Homo sapiens: one gene and its partners. The protein of the gene in region 4 purifies or fractionates together with the protein of the main gene of each other region. This does not show direct contact. Each region holds a gene or a part of one and is shown on either strand. Other genes may lie near its edges. The genes, in order: SGF29, DR1, HCCS, TADA1, USP22, WDR37 and INSR.

The links.
Region 1: the proteins of TADA1 (region 4) and SGF29 purify together in Homo sapiens (affinity purification with mass spectrometry; 6 studies listed by BioGRID and IntAct, with this or other methods). This does not show direct contact.
Region 2: the proteins of TADA1 (region 4) and DR1 purify together in Homo sapiens (affinity purification with mass spectrometry, with the first as the bait; one large-scale study listed by BioGRID). This does not show direct contact.
Region 3: the proteins of TADA1 (region 4) and HCCS purify together in Homo sapiens (affinity purification with mass spectrometry; 3 studies listed by BioGRID and IntAct, with this or other methods). This does not show direct contact.
Region 5: the proteins of TADA1 (region 4) and USP22 purify together in Homo sapiens (affinity purification with mass spectrometry; 4 studies listed by BioGRID and IntAct, with this or other methods). This does not show direct contact.
Region 6: the proteins of TADA1 (region 4) and WDR37 purify together in Homo sapiens (affinity purification with mass spectrometry, with the first as the bait; one large-scale study listed by BioGRID). This does not show direct contact.
Region 7: the proteins of TADA1 (region 4) and INSR purify together in Homo sapiens (co-immunoprecipitation; one large-scale study listed by IntAct). This does not show direct contact.

The regions. Positions count from the first base shown.
Region 1 is NC_000016.10:28,581,420-28,584,919, reverse strand, and holds part of SGF29 (SAGA-associated factor 29), read right to left. Parts: intron 8-3,500; coding exon 1-7. UniProt on the Homo sapiens protein: Chromatin reader component of some histone acetyltransferase (HAT) SAGA-type complexes like the TFTC-HAT, ATAC or STAGA complexes.
Region 2 is NC_000001.11:93,366,407-93,369,906, forward strand, and holds the end of DR1 (protein Dr1), read left to right. Parts: 3' UTR 1-3,087; downstream 3,088-3,500. UniProt on the Homo sapiens protein: The association of the DR1/DRAP1 heterodimer with TBP results in a functional repression of both activated and basal transcription of class II genes.
Region 3 is NC_000023.11:11,109,870-11,114,131, forward strand, and holds the start of HCCS (holocytochrome c-type synthase), read left to right. Parts: upstream 1-1,462; 5' UTR 1,463-1,649; intron 1,650-2,149; 5' UTR 2,150-2,191; coding exon 2,192-2,291; intron 2,292-4,262. UniProt on the Homo sapiens protein: Lyase that catalyzes the covalent linking of the heme group to the cytochrome C apoprotein to produce the mature functional cytochrome.
Region 4 is NC_000001.11:166,859,265-166,862,764, forward strand, and holds part of TADA1 (transcriptional adapter 1), read right to left. Parts: intron 3,149-3,500; coding exon 2,939-3,148; intron 1,074-2,938; coding exon 922-1,073; intron 1-921. UniProt on the Homo sapiens protein: Probably involved in transcriptional regulation.
Region 5 is NC_000017.11:21,008,512-21,012,011, forward strand, and holds part of USP22 (ubiquitin carboxyl-terminal hydrolase 22), read right to left. Parts: intron 2,799-3,500; coding exon 2,640-2,798; intron 1-2,639. UniProt on the Homo sapiens protein: Deubiquitinase that plays a role in several cellular processes including transcriptional regulation, cell cycle progression or innate immunity.
Region 6 is NC_000010.11:1,101,385-1,104,884, reverse strand, and holds part of WDR37 (WD repeat-containing protein 37), read right to left. Parts: intron 1,284-3,500; coding exon 1,049-1,283; intron 1-1,048. UniProt on the Homo sapiens protein: Required for normal ER Ca2+ handling in lymphocytes. Together with PACS1, it plays an essential role in stabilizing peripheral lymphocyte populations.
Region 7 is NC_000019.10:7,114,090-7,116,414, forward strand, and holds part of INSR (insulin receptor isoform Long preproprotein), read right to left. Parts: 3' UTR 1-2,325. UniProt on the Homo sapiens protein: Receptor tyrosine kinase which mediates the pleiotropic actions of insulin.

The DNA of each region.
Region 1 (3,500 bases), on a different chromosome or scaffold from region 4:
GCTCTTCCTGTAAGGAAAAGAGCAGCAGGACATGACGGTGGCCCTTTGTGCTGCTGTGGTACCCTGCCAGCCAGGCCAGAGTCCCCATCCCCAAAATACGGCCCTCATTTTCTTTTTTTTTTTTTTTTTTTGAGATGGAGTCTCACTCTGTCGCCCAGGCTGGAGTGTAGTGGCACGATCTCGGCTCACTGCAAGCTCCGCCTCCCGGGTTCACGCCTTTCTCCTGCCTCAGCCTCCCGAGTAGCTGGGACTACAGGCGCCCGCCACCACGCCTGGTTAATTTTTTGTAGTTTTAGAAGAGACGGAGTTTCACCGTCTTAGCCAGGATGGTCTCGATCTCCTGACCTCGTGATCCGCCTGCCTCGGCCTCCCAAAGTGCTGGGATTACAGGCGTAAGCCAATGCGCCCGGCCTAATTTTTTGTATTTTTAGTAGAGACAGGGTTTCGCCATCTTGGCCAGGCTGGTCTTGAACTCCTGACCTCGTGATCCACCTGCCTCGGTTTCCCAAAGTGCTGGAATTACAGGCAAGGGCGCCCGGCTATGGCCCTCATTTTCTAAATCCAAATTCAGGAGTTCAAGATGATTTTCTCCTTTGACTAATGCAAAAGCATTATAAAAGGCCTTAAAGGGCCTGGTGCAGTGGCTTAAGCCTGTAATCCCAGCACTTTGGAAGGCCAAAGTGGGCAGATCACTTGAGATCAGGAGTTCAAGACCAGCCTGGCCAACATGATGAAACCCCACCTCTACTAAAAATACAAAAATTAGCCGGGCATTGTAGCATGTGCGTATAGTCCTAGCTACTCGGGAGGCTGAGGTTGCAGTGAGCTGAGATCATGTCACTGCACTCCAGCCTGGGTGACAGAGTGAGACTGTTAAAAAAAAAAAAAAAAGAAGGCATTAAAGTTAAATCATAAGTGATATCTTTAATGATAGTCCTTTATCAAAGAGACAAATCAATCTATACAGTCAACGCAATCCCCATCAAAATTCTAATTGACTTCTTTGCAGAAATTGACAAGTTCATCCTAAAATTCATATGGAAATTCACGGGACCCAGATTATCCCCAATCTTGGAAAAAGAAAAAAAAAGTTGGAGAACTCATACTTCCCAATTTCAAAATTTATTACGAAGCTACGGTAATCACGATGGTGTGGTACTGGCATATAGATCAACAGAACAGAATTCAGAGTCCAGAAATAGACACATACAGGTATGATCAATTGATGTGGAGAAGAAGGGGTGGGGAAGAATGCTGGTGCAATTCCTCCCATATCAGTCATCCTGGGAGCAGAGCTGCAACTGCAGATGCTGGAAACTGAGACAGATCCTAAGAAAGAAATTATGACTATGCTTTTTAGCCTTTATGTGAGAATTTTTAAGTGCCTGATGGGTGGGTTGCGCCTTTACCTCAACCTGCAAAATGAGGTTAACAGTGAACACAGCTAGCTAGCTGCCTAGTGCTCAAGACAGCCAATAGTCCATACCTGTGTAACCCCACCCTATATAAATGGGAATGGATTGGGGTTGGGGGGGGATACTTGCTAGACTAGTACTGCTGCCGCTGCAATCTGGACCAGGTACAGTGGCCAAAGCTAACATCCCTTACAAAGGTGGAAAAGTTTGGGTGAAAACCAATCACAAATGGAGAGGAGAAACAGTAGCCGAGTTAACAGAACAAATTAAATGGGTTATGCAATGAGGGAAATCCAATATTGTACTCATACCTCAAGAGAGGCTGAGAGAGAGAGAATGCCATCTCTTAGGTCAGTTACACTGGGTGCCTGAAAGGGCGAAGCCCTGTGTCTGTCAGGACCACGCCTGCTTTTGGAAGCTGACGGGTGAGATGGGAGTCTGGGAACTCGGCAGCAGCTGTCTGAGGGACACCCTGGTTGTATGGGATGATGATAAACTGTTCTAACTGTGGATGACTGAATGGAATGCGTAATCTGCCTGTATCTTTTTTTTCCTTTATTTATTTTTTTGAGACGGAGTTTCGCTCTTGTCGCCCAGGCTGGAGTGCAGTGGTGCGATCTTGGCTCACTGCAACCTCCACTTCCCAGGTTCAAGCGATTCTCCTGCCTCAGCCTCCCTAGTAGCTGGGATTACAAGCATGTACCACCACGCCCGGCTAATTTTTAGTAGAGATGGAGTTTCGCCATTTGGCCAGACTGGTCTCAAACTCCTGACCTCAGGTGATCCACCCGCCTCAGCCTCCCAACATGCTGGGATTACAGGCATGAGTTACCACGCCCAGCCCTTTTTTCCTTTATTTTACAATGTATTTTATTGATAAACTCTTCTTAGAGCAGTTTTGGTTTACAGAAAAGCTGAGCTGATGGCACAGAGTTCCTGTATGTATACCTGCTCTGCCCTGCGCAGTCTCCCCTATTGTTAACATCTTGCATTAGAGTGGTGCGTTTGTAACAACTGATGAGCCAATACTGTTAGATAATTAACTACATCCATCCCCATGATGGTTTACTCTGTGTGTTCTGCCGTTCTATGGGTTTGGACAACGCATCATGTTGCGTGCCCCCCATCATGGTACCCTGCAGAAGAGTTCCACCCCCTAAAATCCTCTGTGCTCCACCTATCCATCCCTTTCATCCTATCTCTCCCAAGGCCCTGGCTACCGCTCATCCTTTCACTCTCTAGTTTTGCTTTTCGTTTACAGTTGGAATACACAGCACGTAACCTTTCAGACTGGCATCTTTCACTTAGCAATGAGTGCCGGCATCTTCTGACTCTTACTCTCCAGGTTACGTCTAAAAGGAATACCATTTGGGAAGGAATTTCTGGGATCTACTCCTTCCTGGCTGTGCGGTGCACAACTGCCAGCAAACTGATCCTTGTGTAGCTATAAACCCTGAGTATCGTGGGCAAAATGTGGCAGAGCATGCCCGATAGCCTGCAGTGAGCTACAGGCACCAATACGCATCTCCCTTGTATCTGTGAAAGAAAAGATATCAAATAGGGGAAAAATGGCTTTTTTTTTTTTTGAGATGGAGTCTTGCTTTGTCACCCAGGCTGGAGTGCAGTGGCGCCATCTCGGCTCACTGCAACCTCTGCCTCCCGAGTTCAAGTGATTCTCCTGCCTCAGCCTCCCCAGTAGCTGGGATTATAGGCATCCGCCACCAAGCCTAGCTAATTTTTGTATTTTTAGTAGAGACAGCCAACATGGCAAAACCCCGTCTCTACTAAAAATACAAAAACAATTAGCCGGACATGGTGGTGTGTGCCTGTAATCCCAGCTACTAGGGAGACTGAGGCAGAAGAATCGCTTGAACCCAGGAGGCAGAGGTTGCAGTGAGCTGAGATCGCGCCACCGCACTCCAGCCTAGGTGACACAGTGAGACTCCGTCTCCAAAAAAAAAAGAGTGTTTTTGTTTGCCTGGATTAATAGGGTGGAAGGAAAAGATATGGGGCATTTTTGTTGGGTGTTAAAAATGTTCTGAAATTGATCGTGCTAATGGTTGCACAATTTTGTGAGCTGCGAAA
Region 2 (3,500 bases), about 73 Mb from region 4:
GCACAGATCTGTATATTCGCAATTGAAATAGGGAAAGTCTTTATATTCATATAAAGATAATTTATAATACAATAAGTCCTCAATGTTGTTGATAGGTTCTGGGAAACTGCGAGTTTAAGAAAAACAACATATAATGAAATCAATTTTACCATAGGTGAACTGATATAAATAAGAGTTAAGTCCCTATGGCATATATTTCTGGTTACAAAAACACTACCAAATTTCTAATAAAGACCCAAAACACTTCTAAAATTAAACATTGAGATTAATATGAGCTTTATATACATTTAAAAAGGATAAAAACAAGTAAGAATTGGCTGGACATGGTGGCTTACGCCTGTAATCTCAACACTGGGAAGTCGAGGTGGGCAGATGGCTTGACCTCAGGAGTTCGGAACCAGCCTGGGTAATATGGTGAAACCCGTCTCTACAGAAAAATTCAAAAATTAGCCAGAGGTGGTGGCTTGCACCTGTAGTCCCAGCTACTCGGGAGCCTGATGTGGGAGGATCCCTTGAGCCTGGGAGGTCGAGGCTGCAGTGAGCCATGATCACGCTACTGCACTCCAGTCTGGGCAACAGAGCAAAATCCTATCTCAAAAAAAATATATATATTATCCAGCCCCAAATGTTTATGGGGTTGTTATTGATAAACCCTGCATTAAACAATCCCACAGTCGGTGCTGCGGTGAGCCGTGATGGTACCACTGCATTCCAGCCTGGGTGACAGAATGAGACCCTGTCTCAAAAAAAAAAAAAAAAAGTAAAAATTATTTACCCAATATTTGGCGAATCAGTGAGTGACAGCAGTTGTAGTGCTAGTGGGTTAAATCAAGGAATAACTGTTGGGAAGTGAAAATTTTAAGGAGCACCTCCTACCACCATGCAGTTCAAAAACAAAAAATAAGAAATAAAGTGGGCTTGCTGAGTGCTTTCATACTGCATCATTTATTGTGCATTTGTATGATTATTATATACTTTACAAATTTTCGTTTTACAGTAATTTGTATTCATTCGTTTTTCAACCTGCTTATTTCAGTTCAGTGTCTTGGGTAGCTGGAGCCTATCCCAGCAGCTCAGGGAGCAAAGTGGGAGCCAACCCTGGACAGGATGCCTTTTCATCACAGGGCGCACTCACACGGCACACACACGCATACTGGGACCATTTAGCTGTACCAATTCACCTAACGTGCATCTTTGGGAATTGAGAAGAAACCAGAATACCCAGAGAAAACTCATGCAGATATGTGGAGGACATGCAAAATTCACACAGACAGTGGCCCTGGTTGTAAATAATTGTTTTTCATCAATGTTATAATGAAATTACAGGCCGGGTGTGGTGGCTTACGCCTGTAATCCCAGCACTTTGGGAGGCCGAGGCGGGTGGATCACGAGGTCAGGAGATAGAGACCATCCCGGCCAACATAGTGAAACCTCATCTGTGCTAAAATACAAAAAATTAGCCAGGCTTGGTGGTGTGCACCTGTAGTCCCAGCTACTTGGGAGGCTGAGGCAGGGGATTTCTTGAACCCAGAAGGCGGAGGTTGCAGTGAGTTGAGATCGCGACACTGCACTCCAGCCTGACAACAGAGCAAGACTTCGTCTCAAAAAAACAAACAAAAAAAGAAATTACATTAGTTGAGGACCTGCTGTATGTGATATGAACAATGAGGATCAACTCTTTTTGTAATAGTTTTTTTACATATGTTATTTCATTTGTTTATTTCCTCTGTGAGGGTAAGTATTGATAGTCCAGTCATAGACTGGTAACACAGGCACACCATTAAAAATAATAGACATACAGTATGCAGTATTTTGTTTTACTTATGAAACTCCGTATTTTATGTATGATGTATTGAGTATGAAGAATAGTACATACTGTTTCCTTTTAACTTTATGTTTCTTGCCTTTGTATATTTTATATGAATAGCACTTGTCACTAACATAGAAAGCAGTAGAGGTGGAAGAGGGAGACTTGCCAGAATAAGTTTTTAATGTGAATCAGAGATTTTTATTAGGAATTGGGAGTGGAAGGAGAGAGATAGTATTAGAAAGTATGTATGCAGCAAAGGATGGAGAAACTGTCCTTGTTGTTAAGGCATCTAAGGATGCTCCAATTACTGGGGAAAACATACCAGGCTCAAAATGGTCTGATTATGCAAATACCTTCTAATACGTTTGTTTCTTTTGTTGTGCCTATAAAAGATGCCATTAACTTCATATTTATGTCACTAATAAACTTCTAGAATCCATGTAGTAGGGTGTAGTAGTGTGGTTAAGCTATGAAGAACAATGGTATTTATTTCCAAAACACTTATTTGGTATATTACATAGGATAGAGTATGTTTTCTAAGCCAAATAGTGTTAGGTTTTCATGTGCAGTTGCCTTACACATATACTAGTAGCCCTTACAAAATTTCGTCTGTCTTTATTATAAACATGTTGTAAGTGAGGAAACTAAGATTCCAAGAAATTAAGTACTGTTGGCCCTCTGTGTCTGGGGGTTCCACATCTATAGATCGACCAACCATGGACTGATGGATTGAAAACATTTGGGGAAAAAACAAAAAATAACCCAACAATGAAATAGTATAAATTTTAAAAATAATATAACAATATTTATATATCATTTACATTATGTTAGATATTATAATCTAGAGATGATTAGCATCCTTGGATTTTGGATTTTGGTATCCTTGGGGTATCCTGGAACCAATCCCTGGCGGATACCAAGGGATGACTGTAATATAATAACATCTAACAAGTGAAGGATTTGAACCCCAATGTAAGTAATTATGAAAACTATTTTTCTTCCACTAGAACTTTTTTCCCCAAAAATACTCTGGAAATACTGGAACAAATACTAAAATAAATGACCTTTATTTGAAGATCTTTTAAAAAAATTATAAGCCTGCCTGAGGATAGCAAAATTGTGTGCTTTTGCAAGGTAATTGTAGAACTCATTCTAAGGAAGCAGAGGTAATGTCTGTTACTATTTTCAGCTCCCTTTTTCTGTCCACTGTTGTCTAAATGATTCACTCAGTGTTATGCAGAATATGAGAAGTTATTTTATAAAGTTGATTTGTGGTATAGGCTTTACATATGTCTTTTCTTTTGGTCAAAATACTAAAGAAAGCTTATAGAAAAAGTGACCTGGTGTCAGGTTTTAGTTTCATCCTTATCCAAATGTTGCAGAATTTTGGAATCTTTTGGAGTACACTTTCTCTTTAAAACAAGCCCATCACCTTTAGTATAGTGGTGAGTAAAAATAAAATAAAAACAAGGCCAAATTGCGTTTTTCTAAATTGCAAGTTCCCTGTTTTCCATATCCCAGTAACAAACCTACTGTTGTGCAAATAGGAAATAACATCTAGTAGCTACTTTAGCAATGGACGTGGCAAAATAAATAAATTAGTAGCTATGGCTCATTATTTAGGATTTAAATGAGCCATAACTACTATAAATGAAATTGAAGATCATGTTCTTAATTTGAAATTAAGGAT
Region 3 (4,262 bases), on a different chromosome or scaffold from region 4:
ATGAATAATTTTGAGGAATTGTGACAGACAGAGTCATAGGGAATGATGGAAAAGACAGAGAACTGTGGGAGGAATGGAACTGTGGGAAACAGAATTTTGAGAGATACAAGAATTTGTAGGAAAGAATAAAGGCTTGCTGGGAAACCCAGCAAATTTTGGGAAAAACAACAGAATTACGGGCAAGACAGGGAATTGTGGGACAGAAAAGTGAATTGTGGGAGACACAAGGAATCATGGGAGAAACAAGAGAATTGTGAGCAAGACAAGGAATTGTGGGACAGAAAAATGAATTGTGGGAAGGAATAGAATTTTGGGAGTGACATGGGATTGTGGGAGAAATAAGGAATTGTGGGAGAGACAGAAGATTGTGGAAAGAACTGAGAATTGTGGGAGACAGAACTGTGGGTAACAAAACAGAATTGCGGGAGTGAAAAGGAATTGTGGGAGGGACAAAAGAATTGTGGGTAAAGAGAGAAGTTGAGCTGTGATAGTTGAAATGGAATCCTTGGGCTATCCTGTAGGCAGTTCTGATGCTGGGATGGCCCTTCTGAGTTGTCCCCTTTGGGGCTAGGGGCCTGGACTTATGTGCCCTTGCAGAGACCCTCATAGGATGCAGATCGTCCCCAAGGAGGGGAAGTGATTTTGTGTGAGGCAATTCTCTTAGGCAGAGGACAATTCCTGGAGACTCAGCTGAAAGCTGTGAGCCCCCAACACTTTCTGCACCAGGGGACATCTGGACGTATTTCACAGAGCCACTATAGTTATATAGAAAGATATATGTTTCTTTATTAACACTTTAAGTAACAAGATCAAATTACCTTAATTTCAAAGTAGTGGATGGATGATATTTTGAGACAGGCACAACAACCATATGTGACATAATTTATCTGTAATGTGTATTAGTGCCACATACAGCTAATAGTACTAGGATTTATTGCCTACATCCCTGATGGAAGAAAATGCTAAATTTCTGTTGGAGGTAAATGAAAATACAGACATTCAAAATCACATACCCAGTTAAGAAGAATTTAGCAGCCAGAACACTGTCTTGTTCACTTTTGGATCTCCACCACCGAAGTTATGGGCACCTACTAACGTTTCTTGAATCATTGCTACAATTAAAACCGATAAGATTTAAAAAAAAAACAAATTTAAAAACTCCTCCAAAGCACTCCTTCTGCCGCATAAAGCATACATAGTAGAGCTCTTCACTCTAGGGAAGCCTCTGGAGCAGACAACCTTCCCTGCCACCGCCACATTTTGAAAAAGGCTCCTGGCCTGGAGGGGCGGGCCCAGAAAGCGGCCCCCGCAGCAGTTACAGGCCGGGGCGAGGAGGGGACGGAACCCGCTCTCCGTGATTGACGGAAAATATTACTCTTCAGCCCGCCTCCCGCGTGCCCGGAAGTCCCGCCTTCTAAAAAGGAAGTAGGGGTGCGTGAGAACGCCGGCGGTGACCGCAGCCACAGCGGTGACCGAGTGAGAGGAAGGCGGCGGCGGCGGCGGCGGCGGCGTGAAGTCACTGCTGCTCTGGGTTCGGGTTGGCGACTGAAGGCGGTACCGGCCTCCCGGAACAGCCCGGGGGAGGGCTTAGGTGCAGAAGGGCAGGCTGGCCGCGGCCGGTTTGGTCTGGGGACCACGGGCTGGAGCAGGTGGGCAAGCGCCGGGACGGTGTGGGGAAGACACTTGGCAGCTTCTCGACCTCTGGTGTCCCTTCGTTTCTTCGAATTCCTATTCATGCGCCGCACCCTTCTCGGACCCCCAGCCCCTCGCTAAGGCTCTGGGGATGGGGGTCAAGTCTAGGCTCAATGGACCTCCCCTCCTCCACCCGGGTCACCACTCCTCGGAAATCCTCGCCCCACTCCCGCCTCAGGCCTGTACCTCCTGGCTGTGACGTGGTTTCTCAGCGACTGCCTCACCTCAGTCCCAAAATCCTCACTGCCTTAGATACATACGTGCCCCCAGAGGTTGGCCTGGGTTTCACAGTATTTCCCTAAGGGGGCAATATATTAAAGCTGTCCTTCGAAGTTAGTACCCTGCCTGGTAGATGCCCATGGGATGACAAAGAGGAGGAACAAGGGTTGACCAGATTAGGACTAACGAGAGAATAGTCTGAGTCCAGAGACATTAATCTGTCTCTTTGTTTTGGCAGGTGGAAATTTAAAATTGTTTACAGTCAACACTGTTTCCAGCCATGGGTTTGTCTCCATCTGCTCCTGCTGTTGCAGTTCAGGCCTCAAATGCTTCAGCGTCCCCACCTTCAGGATGCCCGATGCATGAAGGGAAAATGAAAGGTAATCGGCCCTTTGCCTAGAAAATAAAAACAAAAGATAATTCACGGCTGGGTGCGGTGGTTCACGCCTGTGACAGCACTTTGGGAGGCCGAGGTGGGTGGATTGCTTGAGCTCAGGACTTCGAGACCAGCCTGGGCAACATGGCAAAAACCTCCCTCTACAAAAAAATACAAACATTAGCCAGACGTGCTGGTGGGTGCCCGTAGTACCAGCGACTTTGGAGGTTGAGGTGGGTAGGATCGCCTGGGAGGCCAAGGTTGCAGTGAGCCAAGATTGTGCCACTGCACTCCAGCCTGGGTGACAGAGTGAGACTGTGTCTTAAAAAAAGTCTGGAAAGCCTCTAAAGGAAGAGGCAGTGTAGTATGCTGCTGAGGCTGGTAGGCATGGGAGTCAGGCACCCTGGGTCTGGTCGTTATTTTGCGTCTTATTGAGGTTTGTGACTCTAAACAAGTTAACTCTGTTAGCCTCAGTCTGTCATCTGTAAGATGAAGATATAATAATGTTTCACAGGCCTGTCATGATGATTGAGGTAGTACATGAGAACGTAGTGAGTACTCTAAACCAGCCCCAACTTCCCAAAGTTTACTTGTGCCTACATCAGTGGTTCTTAACTGGAGGGGGGCAATCCCCCCTTCCCACAGGGGACATTTGCCAATATCTGGAGGCATTTTTGGTTGTCACAACTGAGAGGAAAGTGAATAGAGGGCAGGAGTGCTCCTAAACATCCTACAATGTACAGAACAGCCCCCCAACAAAGAATCAGCTGGCCCCAAATATCAAGAGGGCCAAGGTTGAGAAACCTTAGTCTAGATCTAGCTGTCTTAATAAATAACTTTTGCTCGTATAGCCATTTCAGTATTTTCGTATATAAAAGTAAGCCATCACTTAACGGGCTTGCTGTCCATTCTTTAGATAAGAAAATGAAAATGGAAAAGCTGTCTTTCATTTTTAATTCATTCATGTCTACTTTAGATTTTTTATATTAAAGTGTGGCTTGAATCAGTAAGTCGTGAAGGGCAGAAGCAACATGGTGTGCTTACTGAGTACTAATGTTTGCGCTGTTATTCATTTCTTCAGTCAGCCAGCCTATTCTGAGAGGTCACTGCCCATTCTGTACCAAGCATTGCTGGATTTTGTTTGTTTCTGCACGAGAGAATAACATCATACAAAATGGAGCTTTGCCTGATAGAGCTTACATTCTCATCTTCATAAGCTATGTGGTCTTACGACTTCATAAGCTAAGTTTTCTCCCTATTTTATAGTCAAGGAAACTAAGACTTGGAGTAACTGATGCTCCAAGTCACATAGTAAGTGGCAAAGCCAGCAAAAGTTCTGTGACCTTGGACAAGGACAGGCAGTGTTCTTCTGGGGTTTCTTTGTACAGGAAGAATTGAGACAGATCAGCCAAAGCAGGTGTGCTCCTGTTCTGAGTGTCCTCAGGGAGATTCTAGAACCCTTACTTTGGTTTTATTTCATTTGCTGTATATCTTGGAGAGCTGCCAGACTTACTACATTAATAAAGAATGTGGGTGTCTATAGGAGATCGAAGGGGCTACTGGTTATATGACGTGAAAAGTTGAAATGTTATTTTCTTTGTAACACCCAGCTGGGATCTATGACTTGGAAAGGATTGGTGCTTTCAGTGGTAGAGAGGAAAGGCATAGCAAGTCTTCCTTCACCCCTAAAGTGGGCAGTGGCACAGGGCACCAGGAAATGAGGGCTTGGGAGGAGAAGTGCAGGGAAGGAAGTGAAAGCAAACTCAGCTTTTTCATGTGTATTGCTGTAGTTGCTGCTGCTGCTGCCTGAGGCCAAGATTCCATTACATGAGCAGCTGTCTTCTGTGTCTCAGCTCTCCAAGTGCCTGCTCATTCTCTGAACCAGTTTCCCAGTCCCTCACTAATTGGGATCAGCATCCTGGGTCTTTGGGCATAGCCCTTGCTATTGCTCATCTCATTAGGCTCAGACCTTCCC
Region 4 (3,500 bases):
CTGCCTTCCCTTCCTGTTACTTCACCAATCACCCTGCCACCCTTCCCAGTCATACATACTTTTTTCTCTGAACTTGCAAGTCCCAGTTATCTCTTTACCTCTCTTCTCCCAAACTAACCAGATACGCAAAGTCCAGCAAATCACAAGAAATTCAAGTCACTTCAGTAACCATAAAGAAAATTACATTACTACTTTTTTTTTCCTTTCCCAAAGGCTTAAAATTCAGACTAAATTCCCTTTGGGGGAAGTGGAGGACAAAAGGAGATGGAAGGATAAGAAAGACAACACAGGGATGAAAGTAATCTAGGTTGTTTCATAAAGGGGTGACTCAGGACATAGAGACATCCTGAAGCCCTCAATGGGAAGACGACACAGGAATCCCAGAGGTGAGCTGAGAGACCATGTCTGCACAGCAGGAGGCCAAAAGCAAGTGATGACACCAGGCACAGACCACTATCTTGAGCTATGCCTACAAGAGCCAGATGAGGGCCTGGAGAAACATCTACCACTCCTCCTCCTCCTCCCACCACCAAGACACCCAGCTGTGACCCAACAATCACAGGCCCTGCCTCTAACTGAAAGCAGGCTCACTTCCCCACTGGGCAGGTGATGCCCCTCGGGAGCCCTCAGGATGCACCACCTATGCACTACTCCACTGCACCTAAGAAAGTCGGGGCGGGGGGACAAGCACATTAAACCCGCATGCAGAAGCCAAACTCTGCAACTTCACTTCTCATAAAAGGAGTACCAAAATAATTCACTAGATCTCAGGCAAGTATAGGACTTTAAAAAATAAAATTGTACTCCTATTAAAGGTACTTAAACCTATGAAAACACAATCAATTATTTAACAATGGTCTATAAGAGGAGTATAAACAACTAGCAAAAGATGGAAAGAAAATCACAAGAAACTTCATTTACCTTTCTATTAAGTTGTTGTAAGCTACTACACTATTCTTCAGGTATGGCTGCGGGGTCACGTTACTGCCAAAGGCATATTTAAAATGACCATCTCGTAACCGATAAGCTTTCCTTCTTGACACAACTGACGTCAGTATATCTTTAAGGTGATTCTGTAAACATACAAAAAGAAAAATAGCATGATATCCTCTTTAAAAGCAAATCATAAAACTTCCACTGACCAAAAAACATTTATTGGCATTTAGATGGAGATGCAGAATAGGTTAGTATATGCTAGAACCAAATGAATGTTCACATGAAGAGCCACGGAGCCACACCAAAGGAGTAGGAGGGTATGGGAAAGAGGGGGACATGCTTATTTTCATGTATTAATAGTTCTCTTTAAGAGGGGCTTGCTATACATGAAATTTGAAAAGTCTTTACATCTCTAAATTGGCTCCTCTCTCTCAAAAATGAGTTTTAGATGGCTTTAAAAGAAGTACACAAAAATGACTTTTTTTTTTAGATGGATTCTTGCTCTATTGCCCAGGCTGGAGTGCAATAGCACGATCTCAGCTCACTGCAACCTCTGTCTCCAAGGTTCAAGCAATTCTCCTGCCTCAGCCTCCCAAGTAGTTGGGATTACAGGTGCCCACCACCAAGCCTGGCTAATTTTTTATTTTTAGTAGAGGCAAGGTTTCACCATGTTGGCCAGGCTGGTCTCGAACTTCTGACCTCAGGTGACCCGCCCATCTCAGCCTCCCAAAGTGCTGGGATTACAGGCATGAGCAAAAATGACTTTTTAAAAAGAGACAAACTATGCTGAAACTTTGTTTAAAATAGGACAAAAAGTTTTAAGATCTGATATTATTGGAACCAAAATCCTTGCGTGAAAAGAACCTTGGCTCTCTCAAAAGCCACATAAACAACAGATATATAGGAAATAAGCACAAAATAAATTAGGTACTTGATTTCTCTTCACTTTCATGAGAGCCAAGTATATAAGAAAAGGTTGAGGAAGCCTGTGAAAATAGAGTGACAGAACTCGTCCCAGGCTACCATTATTAATAGGGGAGCCAGCATCAGGCAGGGTGTTTCAATTATACCAAGGAAAATCCACTTATATCAAGACATTATTGTACTATTTAAATTGGTTTGCACGCAGAATTCATTTAATGTTTATAACTTCATGGGACAACTGTTATTATTTTTGAAGTACAGATGAAGAAAATAGGGCTCAGAGAATTGAAAATCCAATGTCACCTGACCATACTCGTGCATTATAGACCCCATCAAATTAGTTTTGTCAAGTAACTAAATGAATAAAATGAATGGACAAATGAAATCATGAGCAGAGACAAGAATTCTGCTGTTCAGATGCCAAGACTAATACTCTTCAGTGCTGTATCACAGCAAAAACAAGTGACTTTAATCTATAGGATTCTCAATTTCATTTCTTTCCTTAAAAACCATTCCCCTGTTGACAAAACATCAGATCAACCAGAAGAGTTATGCCATAAATAACCTTTCTGAAAAGCTTAGTCTATTAACTGAAGACAACTATTTGGATTATAATGAGTTTCTCCTCTTAAAAGAAAACAACTTTTAGCCAGGTGCTATGGCTCACACATGTAAATCCCAGCACCTTGGGAGGCCAAGGCGGGAAGATCACTTGAGCCCATGAATTCGAGACCAGTTAGGCAAGAGAGAGAGACCCCCATCCCTAAAAAATTTTTTTTTTTTAAATTAGCTGAGTATGGTGGCGCACGTCTATACTCCCAGCTCTTGAGAGGCTGAGGCAGGAGGATCGCTTGAGCCCAGGATTTCCAGGTTGCAGTGAGCCATGATCGTGCCACTGCACTCCAGCCTGGGAGACAAAGTGATGCTGTCTCAAAAAAAACAGAAAACAACTTCAACAATGACAATTCTGTGAAATCAGAGTGACATTTGGATTCTTTTCTTGCAATACCGACTTTAAACAACACACAAGCCTATCACATTCAACCTGTAAGATTATTTCTGCCAACAGCAAACCAACCTCCACAGCATAGACAACAGCTGAAACAGCCTCCTCGGTGACATTGTCCAGCCCATGCTCATAAGCAGTCACTATCATTCTCCCTTCAAGCTGGCCTCGAGTGGGAAGCATCATTGTGTGGGAACAAAGTTTCAAGTCGTCATCATCTTGGGGATCCTTTGCCACAAATTGCTGGGCTCCTGAGAGAGGATTTTGAGGCTGGAATCTATGCTATGAGTAAGAAAAACTTTTTAAAATTACTCATTACAGTAGCAAACAAGACACAAAGTAAACTCCTGTACTGAAGTTGAGATCCTCCAAATTAATGCCACCAAAACTATACCACAGGGGTTAAGGGAAAAAAGAGTTAATTCATGCACAAATAATCACAGATTCACATCCAATACAAGGTAATAATGAAGACATGGATTAAGGGGAATAATGGTAGTTTGCGTAGTAGTTTATTCTATTCAATTAATACCTTGGTGATCACAGAATGTATGGCACTGTGTTAAAAATAACTGAAAGAGAAGGAGAAGTATTGAACTATATTCAAACAAATCAGAGCATTTTAAATCTAACC
Region 5 (3,500 bases), on a different chromosome or scaffold from region 4:
CTCAAAGGGTTCCGTTATATCATTCAGTTGACATGACATTCTGGAATTGTCAGGCGTATGGAAATGCAGGAGTCCAGGGTGACTGCGGTTACAGAGTGGGTGGTGAGGGAGGAGGCACTGGAGATGCTGGGTACTTTCCGCATGAATGTCTGAATCCTGGCCAGGGCGTCGCACCACAGTGCTGAGGAGGTCACCATCGGGGGACCGGGGTAAAGGGTACCTAAAGGCTTCTTACAACTGCATGTGAATCTACAATGATCTCAACATAAGCAGTTTAATGTAGAGAGGTGAGAGGTCGGCCAGGTGCGGCAGCTCACACCTGTAATCCCACCACTTTGGGAGGCTGAGGCAGGTGGATCACCTGAGGTTGGAAGTTCAAGACCAACCTGACCAACATAAGAGAAATTCCGTCTGTACTAAAAATACAAAATTAGCCGGGCGAGGTGGTGCATGCCTATAATCCCAGCTACTCAGGAGGCTGAGGCAGGAGAACCGCTTGAACCTGGGAGATGGAGGTTGCAGTGAGCCGAGATTGTGCCACTGCACTCCAGCCTGGGCAACAAGAGCAAGACTCCATTTCAAAAAAAAAAAAAAAAAAAAAAAAAGGCAAGAGGACTGGGAAAGGTAATTTCCTGACCGTGCAGAGGCAGGAGGTAGGAGGGCTGCATCAGAAGCGTGTCTGGCACAGGTGTCAGCTGCCACTGACAAAACCTGCAGAACAGATGATTCAACAAAGCACACGCCAAATTTTGAAGCTGAAACACCAGCAAAAAATTCACTCTTTTCACAAGCAGGTATGGAAAGCCCTTATTTATGCTCTGGAAATTCTGCCATCTTAACTAGGGCAAGACGAGGGGGCCTCTGGGCAAAGCTGCACCTGTTTCGTTGCTAGCTTTGTGATCTGCTCTCCAAAGGACTCGAAAAGGAGCCTTTGCTTGCAATACAAAGTGGGGACCCGGGTGCACTCTACCTCTCCTCCACCTTCCCGGGAGTCAGCACCACATCATGTCTCTCCTAACAACACAGGCTTCCCACACATTGTAGTTTGTGAAGTGTGGTTTCTACCTCATGGCCTGCTGTTTTGGCAAAGCTTTCATTTTATTGGAATTTATGATTAAATTTAATTTAGCTGCAAAGACTTTCTTTAAAAAGGTTTTGGTTGGCCGGGCATGCTGGCTCACACCTGTAATCCCAGCACTTTGGGAGGCCAAGGCAGGCGGATCACCTAAGGTCAGGAGTTTGGGACTACCCTGGCCAATGTGGCGAAACCTAGTCTCTACTAAAAATACAAAAGTTAGCCGGATATGGTAGCAAGCACCTGTAATCCCAGCCACTCGGGAGGTTGAGGCCGGAGAATCACGTGAACCTGGGAGGTGGAGGTTGCAGTGAGCCAAGATCGCGCCACTGCACTCCAGCCTGCACTCTAGAAAGAGCGAGACTCCGTCTCAAAAAAAAAAAATTAAAAAAAAAAAAATCACAAAATCAGCTGGGCATGGTGGCACACACCTATAGTCCCAACTACTCAGGAGGCCGAGACAGGAGACCAAGGCTGAGCCCTGGACACTGAGGCTGAGCCCAGGAGATCGAGGTTGCAGTGAGCTATGATGGCACCACTGCACTCCAGCCTGCATGAAAGAGCAAGACCCTATCTCAAAAAACAAAATAAACATGCAACTTTGGTCGTGCTGACTATGCAGCCAGACAGAAACCAAAGGCTCGTACCTCTTCTAAGGGATACTTCCACTCAACAAGGACTCTTCTGCATTACCTTTAATTGATGCAAATAAAACAAAGGCTATAAAATAATAGACAAATTTTAGGAAGGTTTTCTGCTGTCTTTACAATTGTATGCTACAGCTACTTAAATACATTTTTTTTTAAAAATCACTCACAGGTGTGGTGGCTCATGCCTGTGAGCACTTTGGGAGGCCGAGGTGGGTGAATCACCTGATATCACGAGTTCGAGACTAGCCTGGCCAACATGGTAAAACCCCCGCTCTACTAAAAATACAAAAATTAGCCAGGCGTGGTGGTGCACACCTGTAGTCCCAGCTACTCAGGAGAATCACTTGAACCTGAAAGGCAGAGGCTGCAGTGAGCAGAAATCGCACCACTGCATTCCAGCCTGGTCGACAGAGCACAACTCTGTCTCAAAAAAAAAAAAAAAAATCACTTTGTAAATATTATTACTTATCCCAAATGAAGCAGTACATGCACAATTTCAAAAACAGCCCTAAGAGTACAGAACATCACAACTAAGTTTTAATCATGTGCAGAGAAGGCCGTGGACCATGGGGAGAGGCCCGGGCGCATCTCAGCTCACACTCCGGGGTAGGTGATTAGTGCAAGGGCTAAGGGAGCAGCCAGTTTGGCTCTGGGTTCATTTACATGCGGAGGTTGGAGTAGCAGCTGCTGACACTGACACCTGGTGCTGTGCGAAGCTGGGGGACAGAAATATTGAGTCATCTGGCCAAAACAAAGGACAAACTAGCACAAGAGACTGCAGCCAATCCAGGCTCATGCTGCACCTTTGCCCAGGCTCTGTCCTGGGCATGTGAAAGAGCCCTGCTTTGGTCCTGATGGAGCACAGCCTTCTGGCCAGGAGACACGCCCCCGCCGTGTGGGTGCAGGCCTCTCACCGTCGCAGGCAGTCCGTGAGCGTGGTGGTTCCCGACACGTGGCTTTCCCCGTTTACCACGTTGCCCTCGCTCCCTGGGCTCAGGGGCCAGAATGGGGTGGAAGAGCCGGGGAGATCCAAGCTGATGTCCCAGAAGGGGTCGATGGTGGTGGAGACTCCACTGGAAGCAGAGGGAAAACAATGGCTGTGAGGACTGACACCCACCCAGCTCCAGAGGCAACCCGGGGTGGAAGCCGTTCCCACATCCCTTCCCCGCTGTGCCCTTTGTCACAGTGACACTCAGGTGGGATGGGGCAGGAGCAAGAGCAGCAGTGCTCACACCCAACGTGTCCTGGCTCCCAAGGTGGCCCTGGGGAGGGGTGTGTGTGAACTCGGAAGGCGAGGGGCGCTCCTCAAGCAAGGACTTCCCAGTCTGGAGACCATCACAGTCACTGAGGGACTTGGGAGGAGGATAAACTCATGGGCCCTGTCAGAGGCTCTGAATCCACAGGTCTATCTCAGCTGCATCTAGAACTTGGGGCCTGTGACCCTAGGCAACACTGGAGACCCCTGCACATTTCACAGAGCGTGCCCAGGCCAGGCCCGGTGGCCTGCACTGGACAGTCAATGCTGCATTTCACAAGGCCAGTTCCTTGCTAGAAATTTATTTAACAATATAAAAAATGAAAACTTGCAGACTGGGAAATTTACTCTCGATATTTATACAGGATTTAAATCTTGAGACAATCTCCTACTAATGGAATTCAGTAGTTAAGGGACAGCGAGGAGGTCCAAATTGCTCAGAGCAAACTCGGTTTCTAATACTCAGAGACAAGGCCCCAAACGGTCTATGCTCCTTATAGAAAATGGCCCCCGTGACACA
Region 6 (3,500 bases), on a different chromosome or scaffold from region 4:
TACCAGTTAGAAGGTCAGGCAAATTAACAGGTTGAATGTGAGAACCACTTAAATCTTGATTCTTTGCTTAGAATACCTTCTAATGATACAACGCTATGGGTCCTCAGTCAAATACAATCTTTAACGCTCATGCAGGAAATGCACTTAGAGATAGATTCGCAGAAGCAACTTCAGCAGGCAGCATCCCAAGATGGCCCCAAGCCACCCCCACCCCGTACATGCCTAACACCCTTCCCTTCAGTTAGGGCAGAGCCTGTAAATAGGATGAGATTATCTTTCTGGTAATTATGATACATTATAAGGCAAAAAGGATTTTGCAGATGTAATTAAGGTCCCTAAATGAGTTGACTTTGACTTCATCAAAGGGAATATTGTCCTGGGTGGTCTGGCCTAGCCCTTAAAAAGGGTCCCAGAAGTTGGAGAGTTCAGAGCAGCAGGGGAGCTCCAGCTGCAGAGGAAAGCGGCTGCTGTGTGGGAAAGGCAAGCCCTGTGCAGGGGCCCCAGGGCCAGACACAGCCTCTGCACGCCCAGAGGAGCCCCGGCTGGCAGCTGGCAAGAAGACAGGGCCTCAAACTCCAGACGCAAGAAGGAGCTCCTCCAATGACCAGCAGGCTTGGAAGAGGACCGCAGCCTTGGGGAGGTCCTGACCAGGCAGCACCCTCACTTAGGTCTTTGAGGGCCCAGGGAGAAGAGCAGCTACCACGGGCCCAGAATTACTGACCTGGGAAACCATGAGGCCGTCAATTCCTGTCGTTTTAAGACACTAAGATTGTGGAAATTTGTTACAGAGCAATGGAAAACTAATACAACTACCATATGTCCAATATCTAGATACTACATGCTACAATTTAAAACCCCTGAAGACAAAATAAATTTAGCTACCAATAGTTCTATTATTAATAGAAAGAATCTCCAAAAATTACCACAGAAGAGCCAAGAACACAGAGACTCATTCTGGTCAAGAAGTAAGTGGCAAGGTCAGACATAACCCATGGACATAAACTAACATGCACAGCCAGGAGGCGGCGGACTCAGAGAACCCAGGCACCTGTCAGAGAGTGAACGAGCTCGGACGTCTCCACGTCGTACAGGTTTGCCGTCCGGTCCCAGGAGGCAGTCACAGCCTGCTTCCCCCCAACCAGCCAGTCGGAGGCGATGACCACGCCCTGGTGGCTCTTGAGGGATGTCAGTGGGACGCGGATGGTGGGGCAGTCGCTGGACACATCCCCATCGAGGTCGGGCTCGTCCTTGTCAGAGCACTCTACTTCATCTTCCCCAGATATCTGCTGCCAAAGGGAAGGCCAGAAAAGAAAGACATTTCCTGGAAATCTTGAGTTTCTTCTGACATAGCTACAAAATAGATGGTTCTCATTAATCTCTTGAGGACATATCCATCATGATGGTCACCACTAGGAGCCTGGTGCTGGCCACAGTGATGAGTATGTCCTCCTCTGACCCATAACTGCTGCCCGTGAACACCCATCAACTCTACGACCATCTCGTACAGAAAAAAAAGTGGAATCCACAACATTGTCAACCGAACTACCATTTATTTCCACGCATCAACAGAATGGCAAATAAAATGATTTTCAACATTTAAGCTTTCATCAGTTACTAGTAGAAATGCAATATAAAACTAACCAAATACAAATGAAAGTCAGTAATTTATCACATTACAAAAAGGCATTTTCATTCTCAAGAGCCTATTTAAAATATACTTGGAATTCTATTGCTATAGTCATAAGAGTCTATTTTCCTTTGTAACATCAAGCCCCCTGTCAAAGGCCAAGGCTAAAACAAACACATTACAGCCAGCTCTGTAAGAAAATCTGTATATTCATCCAACAAATATTTATCAGGGGGTGACAGAGTGCCAGTCCCCACCCCCAGCCCAGGTGCTGCTTACACAATGCAGAAGAGGACAGACGGCTTCTGACATGCACACATGCAAAACTACGCTCAATCTAGCAGGTAGGAACTCTGGAGTGAGGACCCCTGGTAAAGCCCCTGCCCTCAGAGAACTTCTGTTCTAGCAAAAGAGAGAGACCACACACACACACACCCGTTAGTATGGAGAGGTATGTCATATATACACAAGTACTAGTACTGGAACTGATAATTTGGAAATTTGTCCCAGCCCAAATCTCATGCTGAACTGGAATCCCCTGTGTTGGAGGCCGGGCCTGGTGGGGGTGTCTGGCTCATGGGGGAGGATTCCTCATAGCCTGATGCTGACCTCACAATAGTGGGTGAGCTCTCAAGAGATCTGGCTGCTTGGATGTGGGGCACCCCCCGCCCCCGCCTTACTCCTGTTTCCATCACATGACGCCTTCTCCCGCTTCGCCTTCTGCTGTGAGTGAAAGCTCCAAGCTCCCTGAAGCCTCCCCAGAAGCCAAGCAGATGCTGGTGCCACGCTTCCTGTACAGCCTGCAGAATCAGCCAATTAAACCTCTTTTCTTTATAAATTACCCTGTCTCAAGTATTTTTTATAGCAATGCAAGAATGGCCTAACACAGGCACGTCATGAGCACATATACATTACTAGGGAATGCACGTCACAGGGACGCACAGCAGCACGGGAACGCACGTCACAGGGACGCACAGCGGCACGGGAACGCACGTCACAGGGACGCACAGCGGCACGGGATCGCACGTCGCAGGGACGCACAGCAGCACGGCAACACGTCACATGGACACACAGCCGCACGAGAACACGTCACAGGGACGCACAACAGCAAGGGTTCCCACGTCACAGGGACGCACAGCAGCACGGGAACACACGTCACAGGGACGCACGGCAGCACGGAAACATGTCACATGGACGCACAGCAGCAAGGGAACGCACGTCACAGGGACGCACAGCAGCAAGGGAAAGCACGTCACAGGGACCCAGGGCAGCACGGGAACACATATCACATGGATGCAGAGCAGCACGGGAACACAAATCAACATGGAGACACAGAGTAAGGTGGTAGTAACTTCTATGAAGTAAAATAAAACAGGACAAGGGGCAGCTGGATGGGGGCGCTATTTCACACAGAATTACTGAGGAGGGACTCTCTGATGAGGTCGCACGTGAGTCGGATGTGAGGAAAGGAAAGGTTAAGTAAGGCTCGCCCGGGCTGAGGAACAACATTCCCGCCATGTGCGGAACAGCTACGGGAGGCAAAGTCGGGAACAGCTCCTGTAATCCCGGGAGACTGGAAAGGACACCAGGTTTTATTCCGTGTGATGCAAAATCACCAGACGGCTGTCGGCAGGATGTGATGCCCGGTGTGTGCTGTGTGAACAAACTGCGGAGGGAACAGTGGAAGGGGCTGCTATGGGCAGAACTGTGGACCCAAATTCCTGTGTCGAAGTCCTCACCCCAGGACCTCAGAATGGGGCTGTTTGGAGAAAGGGGCTTTAAAGAGATAATTAAGGTAAAATGAGACCAGGAGAGTGGATCCTATTCCAATAGGACTGACATCCTTGTAAGAAGAGATGAGGACACAGACACT
Region 7 (2,325 bases), on a different chromosome or scaffold from region 4:
GGGTTTTGGATTGGAATTTCCCTCACATGCTCCCATCCCACTTGGAGAATTTAAAAAGACATTGCATTAGGTGTTTGTGTGTAAGGTGCATCACCAGCCTGAAAGGAGTGGGCATAAACCATCAGGGAGCCCAGGGCACCTTTGTGCTCACTTCAGGGGGATTCCATGGAACAGGTGGGAATGCTTGCTCTGAATCAAAGCCCGTCTTTGCCCCGGCAGCCATCTCTCACCAAAGGAAGGTACACCTTGCTGGGTTACCCCATATATCAGATACATCATGACAGCCTGGAACTTAGTTTATGTTTGGGGAACATAGTGACAATAGATGGAGGATTTTTTTTTAAAGGAAGATTAAATTCAGAGAAGAATATTACCAGCCAGGAAGAAAAGGATCTATGCTCGCATAAAGGCCATACCTTCTCCATCCCAACTCCCTCCCTCAAAATTCTTACTGGTCCCTGGCATTCGAATCAGCTGATACACACGTTCCCTGATTCAGACCGGTTCCAGGTAGAATTCTGAAATCTCAAAGATGTCCATGATTGAATCACATCTTAACAATACACTGAGGTAGACTGTGCTGAAAAAAGAAAATCACTATCCCCCATTCACCTGTTTATTTTTCTTTGATAAAAATTTACATGCGCTCCATTTTTTATGAGAGTGATTTTCAGAGTGATTTTATATATTAAAATAAATACTTTTTCCCCTAATATAAGAAAAACCTTTCTGAATTAGAAAAATGTGAAAATTGCAGCTAGTGTAGTATACAACCACTACAAATTTACTAAGAAGAGAACAAAATACCTAGTTCTACGTGTTTTTTTTTTAAATTTAGGTACAGACCCTCATATTTACAAAATAAATTTGGCAAAAATAATTTCTGTACTCTTGCTTCTTGTACCCAATCACTGAGGCTCCTCAGCAATATTTTTACATGCTGTATTTTCCCGAATCATATAAATAAGATAGCAATAGACAATTGGGATTCATGTCTACCTGTGTTCTTAATCAAGAATTGAGAGGGCTTGGAGGTTGCCATTATGACTCTATCCCATTCTTAAGCCCACAACTCTTAAGAGAAGAAGAAAAGGAAGCAGTCAAAAAGTTGTAAGAAAATGCACTCAGGAATAACGCATGGGCGATGATTTTTTGATGAACCAAAGTGATGAGTTCACTGTGTTCTTTGAGCAGCTGTGGTGGTTCTTTTTGCAAAGAGAAGAAACGGTGGATTCACGCCCATTCGGAAGTTCTTGGTGGTGTGTAAGGTCTTTTTCACGGTTTCTCCTCCAGACTCTACTCTCTTAGGGATTGCAACACTGTAAGCACCTGAGCATTCAGCTCAGGCACCACACCTGGCCCAGATGAGGTCACCGGGCTCAGAGCAGCTTCCGGGAGTTCAGTACTGAGGACCGTCAGATGCTCTCAGGGTGGAGGGGACCAAGACGTACTCTCAGTGCACCTCTCTCTTACATTGCTTAGATGTTCCCAAAGTCCATCCAGGTTGTTGTGCTTTGGGATCTGACGTTCTTGGGTTTGCACAATAACGGTTAGGATGTTCACACCCGGGAGAGGAAACGCCACAAGAGGTACACACAGAGAATCAGAGGATGAACACAGGTGTTCTTGAAGGCAGGCTCAGAGCTAGGTAGCTACCAGCTTATCCGAACAGGAACCTTCCAGCAGACCTGGTACCTGAACCAGACCATCCATAAAACCTAGTCTCTCACACACTCCACGTGGCCTCACAACATCCAAAAGTGTTAGCAGCGAACATGGCTTCATTCCCAGAAATGGATGCCTTTAAGACCAAACAAAGAGGCCACTTGTGCCTGACTCCCTCCCCTTCCCGGCCCCACAACAGGCAGACCAACTCATGTCCCCACTCCCCGCCAACCCCGGGGAATAGTCAATAACTTATGAGGCTAATACCAGAGACTTTAAAAATTAAATATGGTACAAATATATTCTCAAAACTCTGTCATCTCAGTTCTTTTTTTTTTTCCTTTTTCCATTTTGTTTTTTCTTTCTTTTTCTTTTTTTTTTTTTAATGTCCTAGCTTGGTTTGGTCTTGAAAAGATTCATAATCACTCCAAATGAAATGCTCCTCCCTTGGCCACCAATGTGAAGGGAGGGTAGAAACCTGAGGCTAGACTTCTGACACAAGAAGAATCTGTCGAGAGCACAGTCTCCCAGTCAATAAGAAGGAAGGAGAGAGGGGGATGAGCTCGCACCCTTGAGAAGAACCTTCATGAGCCAATTCCCAAAGCATCAACTCCGCATGGATACTTTGCACACACATCAGCCGTGTCTAATGGACACACA